Regions from separate parts of the Homo sapiens genome. Here region 2 is linked to region 1. A link means that fine-mapping ties the variant in region 1 to the expression of a gene that starts in the linked region. Tissue or cell type: whole blood. Region 1 holds a variant in brackets; the other region holds the start of a gene. All regions are shown on one strand. Distances are from middle to middle.

The links. PIP is the estimated chance that this variant, and not a neighbour inherited with it, causes the effect.
Region 2: CORO6 starts here. The variant in region 1 is fine-mapped to the expression of CORO6 in whole blood (TOPMed, PIP above 0.99).

The regions. Positions count from the first base shown.
Region 1 is chr17:29,655,498-29,663,600 of GRCh38, forward strand. It overlaps SSH2 (slingshot protein phosphatase 2), which reads right to left. Exons shown (of 16, transcript NM_001282129.2): 12 at 64-110. Among named protein-coding and RNA genes, the nearest start is that of SSH2-AS1, 20 kb to the left of the region's middle. RefSeq lists an enhancer at 7,734-8,028 and a silencer at 7,734-8,028. The variant T/C (reference allele first, on the strand shown) is at 4,295.
Region 2 is chr17:29,619,587-29,627,689 of GRCh38, forward strand. It overlaps CORO6 (coronin 6), which reads right to left and starts at 3,326. Exons shown (of 11, transcript NM_032854.4): 1 at 3,102-3,326; 2 at 1,638-1,898; 3 at 65-187. The coding sequence starts at 1,835. SSH2 (slingshot protein phosphatase 2) reads right to left here. Exons shown (of 16, transcript NM_001282129.2): 16 at 6,352-8,103. RefSeq lists enhancers at 725-1,019, 3,927-5,126 and a silencer at 2,990-3,139.

The DNA.
Region 1 (8,103 bases):
AAATGAAGATAAAACAGGGACTTCTGTTACACAGGGGTGCCAGCTATTGCTTTGTGTGCTTACCCTCGGTTCTGTAAGTCCTCTAAGTTGGAGGCATTCCATTCTGAGCCCTATGGAGCCAAAAAGACAAGGTTAAGGAGTATTAGCAAATCAACCAAACAATACTTGAAAAGGAGCGAGAGAAGAAGAACTTTCAAAAAGAAGACTAATAACATCTACCAGTGCCCTTTAAGTTGCCAGGCACTTCATATGTTATCACATTTAGTTTTCACAAATGATAGAGTAAGAATGTTATTTTCATCTTCATTTTTACAGATACAAAAACCAACTCATAGAATTCAAATAATTTTTGCCCATGATCATACAGCAGGAGAGGTGTCTTTAACCATCATCCAATCTAAATTAGATGTCTTCTGTTATTCTTGCTCATAGTAATCTCCTATTTTCCTCAACAGCATGTATCACAATTTGTACCTATATATTTATTTATGTGCTTACTTTCTAACTACCTTTAATATAAGCTCCTAGAGGTCGGGAACCAGCTCTTTTCTTCCCTATGGAAACCCACGCACCTTGCACAGTGCCTGGCACCTGGCAGGTGCTCAATAAACATTTGCTGAATTTTTACAGATAACAAAAGCAGCATTATTATGCATTGAACTACACCTTATTCCAAAGCTCACACTCTTTTTTTTCTGAGACAGCGTCTTGCTCCATCACCCAGGCTGGAATGCAATGGCGTGATCTCGGTTCACTGCAACCTCTGCCTCCCGGGTTCCAGCAATTCTCCTGCCTCAGCCTCCTGAGTAGCTGGGATTACAGGTGCGCGCCACCATGCCCAGCTGATTTTTGTATTTTTTAGTAGAGGCAGGGTTTCACCATGCTGGTCATGCTGGTCTCAAACTCCTGACCTCGTGATCCACCCGCCTCAGCCTCCCAAAGTGCTGGGATTACAGGTGTGAGACACCGCGCAGGGCCGCTCACACTCTTTTTAGTGCATTAAGTTGCATCTAAGGAGTTAAAGGACAGAACTTGTGTGTGGCAGGAGAAGACACTGAAATAGCAGCTTCTGTCAAACAAATGAGGGAAACATTATATGTAAAATTTTAAGATAGGGATAAATGGCAAACTTTGGGGGAAGAGGTTCTGCTGATGATCTGGAGGACACAATTATTAATATTTTGCCATATTTGCTTTCTTTCCTTCTTTCCCTTTTCTTTTAGTACATATCATACTTTTTCCCCCTGAACCATCTGAGAGCATTTTGTGCACCATGACACTTTATTCAATACTTGAGCATGTATCATCTAAGAACATTTTCTTACATAATATGATCATACCAAAGAAATGTAACATTAACACAATAACCTGATACACTATACATATTTGAATTTCTACAAATGTCCCCAAAATGTCCTTTATATTTACTCAATCAAGGATAATTCTTCACATTTAGTTGTCATGTCTCTATCCTCTAGCTACACTTTTTTTTCTTTTGAGACAGAGTCACCCAGGCTACAGGGCAGTGGTATGATCCTGACTCACTGTAACCTCCACTGCCAGGGTTCAAGTGACTCTCCTGCCTCAGCCTCCTGAGTAGCTGGGATTATAGGCATGCATCACCATGCCCAGCTGATTTTTGTATTTTTAGTAGAGACAGGGTTTCACCATGTTGCCCAGGCTGGTCTTGAACTCCTGACCTCAAGTGATCCGCCTGCCTCGGCCTCCCAAAGTGCGGGGATTACAGGCGTGAGGCACTGTGCCCAGCCTACTTTCTTTTTTCTTTTTGAGACGGGAGTTTCACTCTTGTTGCCCAGGCTGGAGTGCAATGGCACAATCTCGGCTCACTGCAACCTCCTCCTCTGGGGTTCAAGCGATTCTCCTGCCTCAGCCACCCGAGTAGCTGGGATTACAGGTGCCTGCCACCATGCCCAGCTAATTTTTTGTATTTAGTAAAGACGAGATTTCACCATGTTGGTCAGGCTGGTCTCAAACTCCTGACCTCAGGTGATCCGCCTGCCTCGGCCTCCCAAAGGGCTGGGATTACAGGTGTGAGCCACTGTGCCCGGCTACTTTGTTTTTTTTTTTTTTTTTTTTTTTTAGAGACAGAGTCTTGCTCTGTTGCCTAGGCTGGAGTGCAGTGGCACACTGCAGCCTTGAACTCCTGGGCTCAAACCATCCTCCTGCCTCAGCCTCCCGAGTAGCTGAGACTACAGGTGGGCAGCACCATGCCTTGCTAATTTTTTTACTTTTGTTTCTTAGAGATGGGGTCTCACTATGTTGCCCAGGCTGGTCTCAAACTCTTGGCCTCAAGTGATCCTCCCCACCTTGGCCTCCCAAAATTTGGGATTGCAGGAGTGAACCACCACACCCAGCCTAGCTTTAATCTAGAACAGTACATCTTCTGCTTTCTTTGGGAGTGTGGGAGGGGGTCTTTCATAATATTGACATATCGACATTTTTGTAGACTCCACATCTGTTATCTTGGAGAATTCCCCACAATCTGTATTTTTTTTTTTTTTTTGAGACAGAGTTTCACTCTGTTGCCCAGGCTGGAGTGCAATGGCACAATCTCGGCTCACCGCAACCTCTGCCTCCTGGGTTCAACTGATTCTCCTTCCTCAGCCTCCTGAGTAGCTGGGATTACAGGTGCGCACCACCACACCCAGCTAGTTTTGGTATTTTTAGTAGAGATGGGGTTTCTCCATGTTGGTCAGGCTGGTCTCGAATTCATGACCTCATGATCTGCCCACCTCGGCCTCCCAAAGTGCTGGGATTACAGACAGGCATGAGCCATTGTGCCCAGCTGTATTTTCTTTTTTAAGAGGTGGGTCTCGTTATGATGCCCAGGCTGGAGCTCAGTGGCTATTCACAGGTGCTATCATTGTGCGCTATAGCCTTGAACTTCTGGCCTCAAGTGATCTTCCTGCCTCAGCCTCCTGAGTACCTGGGACTACAAGTGCATGCCACCATACCTGGCTTGTATTCAATTTTAGAGTGCTTTTTCTATTCTTTCCCATTTAATATTTTGGGCATACAAAACTTTTATGTGATTAAAAGTCAAAAGCTTATTAAAAAGTAAACTTAGAGGCTGGGTGCAGTGGCTCACGTCTGTAATCCCAACACTCTGGAGGCCGAGGCAGACGGATCACCTGAGGTTGGGAGTTACAGACCAGCCTGACCACCATGGAGAAACCCCGTCTCTACTAAAAATACAAAATTAGCCAGGTGTGGTGACGCATGCCTGTAATCATAGCTACTTGGGAGGCTGAGGCAGGAGAATCACTTGAACCTGGGAGGTGGAGGTTGTGGTGAGCCAAGATTGTGCCATTGCACTCCAGCCTGGGCAACAGAAGCGAAACTCCGTCTCAAAAAAAAAAAAAAAAAAAAAAAAAGTAAACTAAGAGGTCTCACTCTCACTCCTATCTCTTTAATTCCTATTGGTGACATTTTCATTAGTTTCTGATTTACTCTATTTTGAAAAAATATAAGCAAACATATGCTTATTGCTACTTCTTACTCATATTACCAATTCTTACTAATATGCTACACATAATTTTTTATTAATTGCTTTCATTTTACATATATTTCATTTTATATATCCTCAAAACCACTAAATGTAACAGTTCATAGAGATCTTATTTTTTCCTACATCTGCATAGTACTTCATGAGTACTGATATAATAGTTTATTCAACTAGTCTCCTATGAATGATATTTCTTATTTGTGGAAGCAGGTTTGCTAGGTCAAAGGCAGGATACACTTTTGTTAAACACTGCAAAATTTCCTTCCGTAGAGGCTGAAACAATTCTGTGGTCCCACCAGCAATGCATCAGAGCACCACTTTCCCCACAGCCTCTCCAATAAACTGTGGTTAAGCTTTTGAATTTTTGCCAGTCTGATAGGTGTCTCAGTGTAGTTTCAATTTGCATTTCTCTTAGAAGTAAAAGTGAGCAACTTTTCATTGTTTAAGATCTATTTTCTATCTTTGAGCTATCTGTTCATATCTTCTGAAAAGGCAGACATTTTATTTTATTTTATTTTTGAGACGAGACTTGCTCTGTCACCTAGGCTGGAGTGCAGTGGCACCATCTCGGATCACTGCAAGCTCCACCTCCCGGGTTCATGCCATTCTCCTGCCTCAGCTTCTCGAGTAGCTGGGACTACAGGCGCATGCCACCATGCCCGGCTAATTTTGTTTTTTGTATTTTTAGTAGAGACGGGGTTTCACCGTGTTAGCCAGGATGGTCTAGATCTCCTGACCTTGTGATCTGCCTGCCTTGGCCTCCCAAAG[T/C]GCTGGGATTACAGGCGTGAGCCACTGCGCCTGGCCAGACATTTTATATATATTTTTTGAGACGGAGTCTCGCTCTATCGCCAAGGTGGAGTGCAGTGACGTGATCTTGGCTCACTGCAATCTCCACCTCCTGGGTTCAAGTGATTCTTCTGCCTCAGCCTCCCGAGTAGCTGGGATTACAGGCACGCACCATCATACCCAGCTAATTTTTGTATTTTTAGTAGAGATGGGTTTCACCATGTTGGCCAGGATGGTCTCAATTTCCTGACCTCGTGATCTGCCTGCCTTGGCCTCCCAAAGTGCTGGGATTACAGGCGTGAGCCACCACGCCTGGTCAGGGCAGACATTTTATAATAAGAGTTTACTCTTTCAGAATTAGAGGCATTAATGGAATTTAGCATTAGAAGACTTAGGTTCAAGTTCTGACTGCCCTTCCTACTGTGGGTGGGGACATTAGGGCCAACTGCCTAACCTCTCCTTTTTTTTTTTTTTTTAGATTGCAGTCTCGCTCTGTCGCCAGGCTGGAGTGCAGTGGTGCAATCTCAGCTCACCGCAACCTCTGCCTCCCAGGTTCAAGCGATTCTCCTGCCTCAGCCTCCCGAGTAGCTGGGACTACAGGTGTGCGCCACCACATTCAGCTAATTTTTGTATTTTTAGTAGAGATGGAGTTTCACCATGTTGGCTAGGATGGTGTCCATCTCTTGACCTTGTGATCTGCCCGCTTCAGCCTCCCAAAGTGTTGGGATTACAGGCATGAGCCACTGTGCCTGGCCAACCTCTCTGTCTTTATCTGTAAAATGAAAACCCCTTCCCACCCCAGTAGTATATATTTAATGGGTACATTTCCCTCAAATTATACATGCAAAGTTTTTCCCATATTAAAATGGAAAACCCCTCTCTCTCTCATAAATCCTCCTGCAGACTCTGTCCTTTCTCCCTTTCCTTCATGACTTCATAGAAATAAAGTCAAATACTCACTTTCTGGATGGGTGCAGTGGCTCATGCCTGTAGTCCTAGCACTTTGGGAGGCTGAGGTGGGCAGATCACCTGAGGTCAGGAGTTTGAGACCAGCCTGGCCAACATGGTGAAACTCCAACTTTACTAAAAATACAAAAATTAGCCTGGTATGGTGGTGCGTGCGTGCCTGTAATCCCAGCTACTTGGGCGGCTGAGGTATGAGAATCACTTGAACCCAAGAGGCAGAGGTTGCAGTGAGCCGAGATAGCACCATTGCACTCCAGCCTGGGCAAAAAGAGTGAAATTCCATCTCAAAAAAAAAAAAAAAAAAAAAGAAAAGCAAATACTCATTTTCTCTATTTCCTCATTTCCCACGTATCTCATCCATAGCACTTGGGCCTCTGCCCTCATCACTCTCGCTGATGTTACTAATGACCTCTCCTAATTGTCTTATCACCACTGTATCCTTATTCCATTGGCCTTCTCTGAGTATCTATCTGATATGGCTCATCATGCTCTCCTTCTAGAATTAGATCAGACTGTACAAATACCTAGTCTCATACCTCACACAATAAAGAGGATAGACAAACGTTTGTTAATTGGAAGATCAAATGTGACCAGTAAATGAAGCACTGTGAAAATTGTTAAGTGTTGTGTAAGTACTATCATATTACAGGTGATCTGTAATCTGGCCGTTGAACTGGGAAAGCTCAAGGACACTGTGCTGAAGTTCCATTTAGGAAAAGGTCAGTGGTGATGTACAGGCAAGAGCCCTGCTGGCTTGTTTTAAAAAAATATGGGAGGCTCTGAAGGCTCTGCTCAACCTTAGAAAACAAGCTTCTGCACCAAAGAAATAGCCAAGAACTACAAAGGACTTCAAGGAGACAGATGCCAAACAATAGGGGCTGAGAAGTTAAACTGGAGCCAGCGAAATGTGACCACCTCACTTCTTAATTTAGAAATCTAAATCCTTCGTGGAACTCTGTCCAGTTAGATGAAAATAACATTGACACGATGGATAAAGTCCCTAGTTTTCATCTACCTGTCCAGAGAGAGTTCAACCTGACAATGTGAAGTGATACCTATCCATTGGCAAATAAATTAAAGGCACTGGTTACTGACTCACTGAAGCCCATACAAAGGGACTTGGGCTACACTTAGGGCTGCTTCAGGTTCAGTTTGAAAGACCTAGAGACCACTTGGTATAATTACTTTTCTGTACTCAATACAAATGCCATGTATATTAGACTTCCGGGGCTCTTTGCAGACCCAATTTCCCCCCCGCCCATGCTTCATAGGCTTATGGTGACGTAATTCTACCAGGGTTTCCATTATGTTCTATGTAATTATGCAAAGCATATTCTAATTTTACTGAAGTGTAAAATGAAACCTTTGGACTATAATACATTTTAAAGTAAGTTCATTTCCATCTTTTACTCTGGTTCCCTTGCACTGTACGCTGGCCCAAAGACCCAAGTAACTGATTTCTTTTCATGCTATCCTCAGGAAATAGCCTTGCTGGAGTCCAAATGTCCAAGGAAAATAGAAGACTACAGCACATTTATAGCAAATAAGGACTGTACTGTGGGAGTTCTGCTAAGATAAATATAACTTGACATAATATCCAAGGACTGGTATCTCTGTCCATATTTTATCATATCATTCCTATAGCCTCAATACTGTAAGTCACATTACTGTGGCAACCAGGCATAAGCTGTTTATTAACTTTTCCTTCTAAGAGAAATTTATGCCACACCTCCTGAATTTATCACATTCAGGGACAAAAATCATGAATGTGATAAAATAATCCTTTCTATTACTGTCTCACCTATTTACACACCCTCTGTTTCTCTTCATCTACATTAAAAGTAACCAATTTGAGGATTTTTTTTTAACTTTTAAGTTCAGGGGTACATATGCAGGTTTGTTACATAGGTAAACTTGTGTCATGGGGGTTTGTTGTACAGATTATTTCATCACCCAGGTATTAAGCCTAGTACTCATTAGCTATTTTTTCCTGATCCTCTCCCTAGGCTGAATTTTTTTATGAAAAGGAAACACTTTCCCAAAAGATGTCAAATCTTGTAATGTCAAATCTTGAAAAAGATAATCAGCAGTAAAAGTTCTATTTTTCAAATTCATGAGCAAAATTATTGGTTATGTGTCCAATATACTTGTTTGCCTGCTTTTCTGCAAAGGGTCTCTATCAACATCTAGCTTTTTCTCAGCCAAATCGGACAGCCTCCAGGAGAGCTGATGATACTGAAACTTAGTTGGGCAAAGGCTTCCAGCTCAGAGAAGTGATATGCTTGTAAGGGTGTAGAATCTCTTTTTCTAGAAACACCCTGGCTTCCCACCAATCAATTCTCTCTTCTCAATGCAGCTTTTATTTAAGCTATAATCTACACTTTCCCACTCCATACCAGCTGGATACTTTCCCTAATAAACAGATCTCTGTGCAGTACACTGCAGAACTGAGCATTCTTCCAAAGGGAAGGAGAAATCCTGTTGCCTCTCTTTACTCAATCTGGTTGAGCTCCAGGCATGGCAGCTATGCAAGATGAGATGACTCTGCAGAAAATCAACACCACCACTTGCAGCTAGAATGCCTCTTTTTCCGTGTCAACTGCTAGGAAAGCCAGCAGGGCAAAGACTCAATGGAGAAGAGATAGGGAGTTGGACATAGGATATGGCAGTGTAAACAAAGGGAGGAAGCCACCAAGGAACAAGTATAATAAGATGTTTAGACAACCTGTTCATGCATTTACTTTGTTAAGTAGGATTTAAATTACAGAGATCCTCAATTTTGAAGTTTTTTTTCCCCCAAATAAATATTCACAATAGAAAGAAAA
Region 2 (8,103 bases), 36 kb before region 1:
ACAGGTGAGGCAGCCTTCCCTGCTCCCCTGCTCAACTGCCCAGCAGTAGCCACCTGGCTCCTACCATGATGGTGGTGTCGTCTGAGGCACTGGCGATAACGTTGTCATTGTGTGGACACCAGTCAATATCCAGCACAGGGGCAGTGTGCCCAGTGACCAGTGGGTAGTTCTTATCCACTCGCCCTGTCTGAGGGGTTGGAGAAGAAGATGTGGGGCTACTCTCCTGTGTGTTTTTTGGGGAGTGGGTAGCAGATCTGCTTACATCTCGATTCCTTATTACCTATTTTCTCTTTGCAGATCCCTCTCTGCACTTCTAACCCCATCCAGTCCACTTCCTGCACTTTACTGAAGGCAGAGTTGAAATAATTTAATATTAGGGACTGTGACACAGAGAGGTAAGATGGCCTCATCAAGGACACACAACAAGATACTTGTAGAGCTGAGATTTGAACTTTCCAGCCCAGTGCTCTTCCAAAGACACCTACTTGGAGGAGGCTGTTCTTCAGCCTGTTCTCCTATTGAAGTGTCTGTGGGAATCTCCTGGTGGAAGAGGTCAAGGTGAGATAATAGTGTAGTGCTGGACAGCCCTTTCCTGGCCTCCCTTGGCAGATCTCTTCCTTGTGAACCACTTTTACCTTGGAACCACAAGCAGCAAGCAGTCCTGGTGCCTACTATCCCCAAATGGGAGCTGGGGGCCCATCTATTTTTTGGTCTTCACAGGCTGCTTGTGGGGGTTCTGAGACCTCTGCAGGGGCAGACACTGGTCCAGACCAGGCAGCGGGGGAGAGGGTGGCTATGTGGTACTGAAAGAGCAGACATATTGGGGGAGGAGGCAGCTCCGGCTGAAATTTGAGCCCTGGGGCTGTGTCCCAGGATGATGTCTGCATTGTCTGGGGTGAGTCACTGGCTTTTTCAGGCCTCTTCCTGACCCCGCCACCTGTGGAGCCTACCCTAACAAGGTGTAGGGGCCAGAATCCAGGTCAAGGTCATACCTTGGGGGTTGGGGGAGAGTCATCCTTGGGATGTGGATGGTCAAGGGGCTTAAGGTTATGAAGCTAACGTGGTAGTCATTGCCTGGTCCCCATCCTGAGGGTAGGGAGGGCTCTGGCTTTATGTGTCATGTCCCCCTTCCTTTCCGTTCCCTTTCTTTCTACTTCACTGCAAGTGTCCTTGGAGGTAACCAGGGACTCTTTGGATAGAGCCTGACCCTGTCCTCAGTTTGCTGCTCTGGGATGTGACTTAATCAAATGGTCATCTTGGGCTAGGGAGGAGGTTCTCCACACCCAAAACATGAGGGGATGCGGCATTAGGAGAGGCAGTGATGGAATCTGGCCAGGCTTGGCTGTGCTGTGTCCCAACCATCTCCATCACCCGGCTCCCCTCCTGGTCCCTGCTGGGAATGGGGTGGTGCATGGAGAGGTGGGAGGGCTAGGGAGTGGGAGTAAGCCACCCTGATGTTAGGGTGGGGTGGGGTGGCCTCCCCTCTGGTCCTTGAGGGCTTGGGGAATAGGGAGGAGCCAATCCACACAGATGCTTCTCCTGACTATGGAATGGAACTAGGTGAGAACAAAGGCTCAGGAGTTCCCAGGGGCCCCAGCTAGTGTCCTCCCACTTGCTTCCTTTCCCTGATCCCTCACCTTGGCCAGAGGCAGGACGATGAAGGCACCCCCGCCTCCAGCCTCCACAATAATGGCCAGGAATTTGGGGTTGACGGCACAGAAGGAGCTGTCCCATGTGACCTTGGACACACGGATGTCCTCGTAGGCCTGGTCGGCCTTTGCTGCCTGCCCAAACACATGGCGGAACTTGCTTTGCCGAACCACACGTCTGCTCATAGCTGCAGGCAGAGAGGTAGGATCTCAGTGCCCAGAAATGCCTTTGGTCCTTAGTCCTGTGAGCTGCGGGAGGGAGGAGGAGTGGAGGGGTGGCTGATGAGAAGGGTTATGTGGTCAGGAGTCAGGTATAAATCCATATAGTGTCTGGTCCTAGAAGCAGGGAGCTTTCTTCAAGGTGGTCAAAGTATGGGAAAGTTATTTTGCTGTGTAAAATGCTGTTTAATGTAAGTGGCTAGGATTTGGGGCCTGAATTCTCCACAGAGACCCAGGCTGAGGGGATTGTGGAGCCTAACAGACTGAAAGCTTTCTGGACGTTGGAATGTTTTTGGGAGGAGCCTCAATGCCACACTGCCTGCACCCCCCGCCCCCACCACCGCCAGCCTTGATGAGCATCTCTTCACGGACGTGGTTGTAGCTCCCAGAGGCACCCTGTCCAGAAGCAGAAGACTTGACCATTGGATCTTGGCTTAAAGCCAGGTATGGGGCCAAGACTGCAGCCACCACAGGATACCGAACTCGCATCTCTGGAATAGTTCAGGCAGATGGGGTTTTGCCTTTTCCTAAAATTTTGCCAAGGGGGAAGTTCCTCCTGTCCACCAATCTGAGTCCTTTCTGCTACTGTTTTCATCCCATGCCTTGTGGGGGGACGGGTGGCAGCACAGAGTGAGGTGGATCCCTCTTCTCCCACTCCTTTCTGCACTGGCTTCTCCAGGAAGCCCTGATCATGGTCTTCTGGCTTTTGCCTACCATAGGCTTGTCCGGTTTCTCCTCTGGGTCCTCTGCCCTGGTTGGGCCTTCTTCCTAGTGAACTCTTCTAGGGGTGGGGTCTTCAACCCCATCCTCCACCCCTGCCCCCGCCACGGCCAAGCCAGATTTGCAGGGGTGGGGAGGGTGAGGTGCCTTTTCTCCAGCTAGGGTCTCCCTAGAGGACACACTGAGCACTCCCAAAGCCCCAGCCAGTGGCTCCTGCCCCACCCCAGCCCCAGCATCCGTGTGCCCTTCAAGGCGCGTCTGCGGCCCCGAGCCTGAGGCCCGGCCTCCCTGCACCCTTCTTCAGCCTGCTGCCCTGACACTGCGTTCTTGCGAGACGAGGTGTCTGCGCCCTCCGGGAGCGCTGGCTGCTGTCCGGCCAAATATAGACACCACGTCCTCCCCGCCCGAAACCGAATTTGGCGGCGCGGGGGGAGGAGGCGCAGACCTCTGCCCCTCAGGGACCCCGCCCGCTCCGCTGGCTGCGGTGACGGCCGGGTGTGGGGGGCTGGGTACCTGGTCCTGAGCGGGCTGCGGGGCGCTCACGCTGCGAATCCTCTGCGGAAGGGGCCCGAGTGCGTAGGGGGCCGAGGAAGGCTTCAGGGCGAAGGAGCCACCTCTCCGGGTGTCTGTAGTATCTGGGACCCGGGTGTCCAGCTCCGCACTCTGGCCGATCCTGCGGCTCTCTAGAGCCCGGCGCCGCTGCAGCCCCAGCTGCCGCTGCCATCAACCTAAGAGGGCGGGGCTAGCATAGGGGCGGGGCCAGAGCCCAAGTTGCCCCGCCCCCTCCAGCGGCGGGAAAGTCGAGCGACCCCGACTCCCCTCCCAGCTTCCGCCGGCCTCGGAGAACCATCGAAAATAAATGTGCAGCTGTGTGCTAGGTGCGCACGCTGCTTCCCTCCCTCCATGACTCCCGGGTAGGCTGGGGAGGCTCGGGTTCGCAGACCTAGAGCAGGACGCTTGGAGAGGGAACGGGCGAGGGGGCGTGCGCCCCTAGAGCGGGCAGCCGAGGGAGACCAGGTGCCTCCACCCGCATTCCAGCCTCAATCGCGCTCCCAATTTAGCTGTCCCGATCGGCCGGGACTGCGGGACTGCACTTCCAGGCCTCCCTGGGGGAAAGAGGCCCTAGAGAATGAGGACCCAGGCTGATCCTGATGTAGGGCAAGTGAGAGGGCACCCGACACAGGGTTGTGAATGTTAGTTATTGTTATGAATGGCAATAGCGATCATTTGAGAAACCTAAAATGCTGGCTGTGTGCTAGGCATTTCACCCCATTAGATGAGATTCCATGGAGCAGGGCAGGAAGCAGCTGAAAGAACAAGGGGAGGACCGAGTGTAAAGTGAACCCACCTTGACACTCCCTCCCCTCCCAGATGCAGGGGGAAGAGGCTAGCACCGGTCTCTAGTCACATTTTAGGGGTCAGAGAAGCCAACTCAGAGGCCAGACTCCTAATGTTTTCTGGGCCTTGTTTGAATTGGCGCCCGACTGTGTTCCAGGTAAGCTTCCCCCGTCTCCCCCAATATTCACAGAACTGAATGTTGACCGAGGTCAAGGAGATTAAAGATAACCTGATCAAAATACAGCCAGTGAAGACCAGCCAGTCCCGTAGCTCCAGTCTACCCAGTGTCTGCACATTGCCTGGATTTCTTCCCTTGGATCATAAGGGCATCTGGGGCCAGTTATTACTTCCCACCCTCCAGGGCACACCTGGGAGTGAGTGAATGGAACACAGCCTTCTGAAGGGCAGGAACCAGCACTGGGGAGGAAAGGGAGGGAAGGTGGTAGAAACCATGAAGGGCCCACGAGGCTCCTTTGTTTCTCAGGAAGAGTCCAGGTGGCTTGTAGGGACAGAATCAAATCAAGAGTCAGTGGCTTGTAGGGGAACAGAATAAAAAACTGTTACGAGTGCTCCAGAAATAACTCCTGGCGTAGGGGTGCTGGGGCAGGGTATGAGGGTATGTGAGTCATCTCTCTTTTACCTAAAGATTCCAGGCACATGATTAGGAGGAAAATACCTGAGTGACTCAGTTGCTCCTTTACAACAATAACCCATGCTTATGTGCTAGGCACTGGCACTAAGGGCTTTATACGTATTAATTTCATACTCTTAACAATCCTCTAGGCTGGTCGCGGGTGGCTAACGCCTGTAATCCCAGCACTTTGGGAGGCTGAGGCAGGTGGATCACCTGAGGTCAGGAGTTCGAGACCAGCCTGGCCAACATGGCAAAACCCCATCTCTACTAAAAATACAAAAATTTGCCAGGTGTGGTGATGCACACCTGTAATCCCAGCTACTCAGGAGGCTGAGACACGAGAATTGCTTGAACCTAGGAGGCAGAGGTTGCAGTGAGCTGAGATCATGCCACTGCCCTCCAGCCTGGGTGACAGAATGAGACTCTGTCTCAAATAAAACACACGCACAAAAAACCAAAAAACAATCCTCTAAGGTGGGTACTGTTGTTATCCCTATTTAACAGTTGAGGAAATGGAGCCACAAAGAGGTTAGGTGGCTTACCCATCACAACCTCAACTGGTAGTTGATGTAGCTATGATTCTTACCCACGTGGTCTGGCATCTGGTTCTTGCTTTTCAGCAGCATGCATTTCTGTCTCTCCCTGAAGGACAGTGCCACTTTATCTCACAAGTGCTGAGCTAAAACGTAACTGAGAGTTTATACTGTGTGGCACAGAGGAAAGGATGCCTGGAATGAATTAAAAAACTGGTTCCAGTCCTGGCTCAATCGCCATATTTTTACAGCTCTCTGAACAGGATTGGGTCAGATTCTTTCCAACTCTGCACCACTCCTTAGCAGAGTAGGGATTTTATGTGCTGCCTCCTCTGAAGTGGCATCTCCCCTACCCCCACCCTCCTTCTCTTTAAAGAGAACAGGAGACTCCCTTCTAGAGGGAAGCGCTTGGGACTAGGAAGCAGGAATCCTTCAATGCGTGCTCCCTTCAGTTCCATCATCTAGGAAGAGCAGTGCTTTCTGGGTACAGGGATTCAGATATTTGCTTGGGCCTGGCGTAGCTCAGCCCTGCCCTCTAGCCTTCTTCTGGCTGCCAAGGCCTGACAGAGCTGTGAGTGGGCAGAGTTAAGGCAGGAAGAACCAATCAGGGAGAGAAGCTACTTGGGCTTCGTGCCTCCCTTTTGAACTGTTAGCTCTGAACGGCAATCCATAGAAGACAGCCATGGATTTCATCTTTTAGGAAGCCATTTTCTGGATGAGGTAGCTCGCAACTTAGCCATGATTTGGTCCATCTGCTTTGGCTAGAAAACCAAGACTGAACTTATCTAGATTGGTCAGGGATCCCAGGGATCCTTAGAATATTTTGTGAAAGACCTTACCTTCACCGTCATGCACTCCAGCTAAAGACCAGCACTGTGCCCCTCCCACTTGATATGGATGATTCAGAATGAAGCAGGCTGACTTTAGTTCAAGGCAGTGATTTTTTTTTTTGAGGGGGGCGGGGACTTCAAATTTTGTTAGCAATTGGGAACTGGAAACTGAGCTCTCCCTAGATGGTAGTCCTGCCTTGTATGTGATGAATGGCACCACTAAATATCTCATGATGTTCATGTCCCATTTCTAGACATTTTTCAGTGGGCTGAGGTGTTTCATTTATTTCTGGGGACTCAGCTCTCTCTTCAGGGTGACATGACTGGGATCAATCATTGAAAACTACTGGTGTTCACTGTGTTTCCTCTTCTGACTCTCCCACCTTCTCCAGCACCTCCCTCCTTTGTTGCATCTGATGAAGTACACGTTTCATCTTCAAAATAAAAATTTATTCAATCTGTAACAAGAACATTGAATCTGCACATTTGCGCACAAGTTCACATTTAAAAACAGTGGAGCATATCTGTAATAAAAAAATCTATGATACAAGTGGAACATCCCAACCACCAGGAAGATTAAGGAAGGAGATGAGACCACTCTATATTCTGCTTCAAATGCCTCAAAAATGTCCCAGAGATTCCAGGGAGCACCTGCTTTAATAAAACATGAGCATAAAAGTTTGGGGTGGCTTGGGGCAAAGGTAACAGTCAGAGGAGAGTCTTCTGGACTTGTTTTCCATGTTAGAACAAGTCCTACAAAACAAAGCAGAAAGAAAAAAAAAAAAAAAGAAAAGTAAAGGCACCTTTAGATATGCCAAGCAAACCAAAATCCAACAGAACATAAAAATCAAACATTTCCCTGTGGGCTTACTGATTGGGAAGCACTTCAGGGCCAGTTACCCAGTTTTTAGTTTGGGTATTAGCTCTGCATGTGTACACAGGACGCTGCCACCAGCATTGCTTTGAGGACACAGACGGCAGCACCAGTCAAATGCCTCTTAAGGGATCTTCAAGGTGATTAAGGATGATTCCAGTTTAGAAATCCTATCCTAGACCTCTGGGGCACTGAGAAAATGAGGCTGGTTATCTTCTCATAGCAGGAGCCAGGGCCAGTCACCCTCCATTTCCAGGCTGGAAAAGTACAGAAGCACCTTGCAATAGCTCTTCATGACGTCAAGGGACCCCACACCCTGGGAGAAGGGTTAGGAGTGTGCAGCTTCCTGCTTTGGTGGCAGGCCTTTTCCTAATATGGGTGTCAGAGGAGTTGAGGCAGCAAATATGCTTGTGTCTAATACATGCCTTGATCTTTTAGTTTGGAAGGGAAAACAAAGTCCAAGATGCTTTTAAGTTGGATTGATGCTGAAACAGCTAAAATTTCATCTTATCCACCATCAAAAAGCAAAACAAAATTAAACAAAATGACACTAGCCATTCACCATTACAACCATCACTATAAGACACACCATCACTGAGGAAATGACAACTATTTCCATAGAGAGTGCTGGATGGGAGGGCAGGACACAGACGGAAGTCAGCTTCAGCGTATACCCACTTACTCACAAGGGCTGACCATGATGGCCCTGCTCTGCATGAGGACTCACAGGACAGCCAGGGCACTGATGCCTGCAGGACTGCATGGCCGACAAGATGATGCACATTTTAATATTCAAAATGTAAACAAAGTATCCACAAATAGTCCAAAAAAGCCAAAGAATGGCTTTACTTAAAAATTTTTAAATGCCCTTAAAAGTGACTTTTTGCATAATGCTTTCTTAAAAAAAGAACTCTCACAAAAACATTTTTACCAAACATGCCTAGATCACTTCAGAACTGAAATCCTCAGATGAAACAGGTGAACACTTCTGTGACCTGCTACATCTCAGAAGCTTCTCATAGGAAGCTTTGAGTTTACCCAACAGCATCTGTCTGGGGCCTGTGAGCAGAGTACCTCAGAGCCTGAGGCACTGAGATCTTCAGGCTGTCCTTGGAGCTCTGGGTAGTTTGCAAAATGAGAAAGAGGAACTATCAGTAGGGATAAAGACACAGAACAAGGAAATCCATAACCCTGTCTCAAGCCTCCTCAGAACCAGGAAAATACTAAAGATCCTGAAGAGACTAAGATGATAGGAATGATCCCAAACATTTAGAATCTGAAAGGCAACTAAAATGAGGAGAGATGA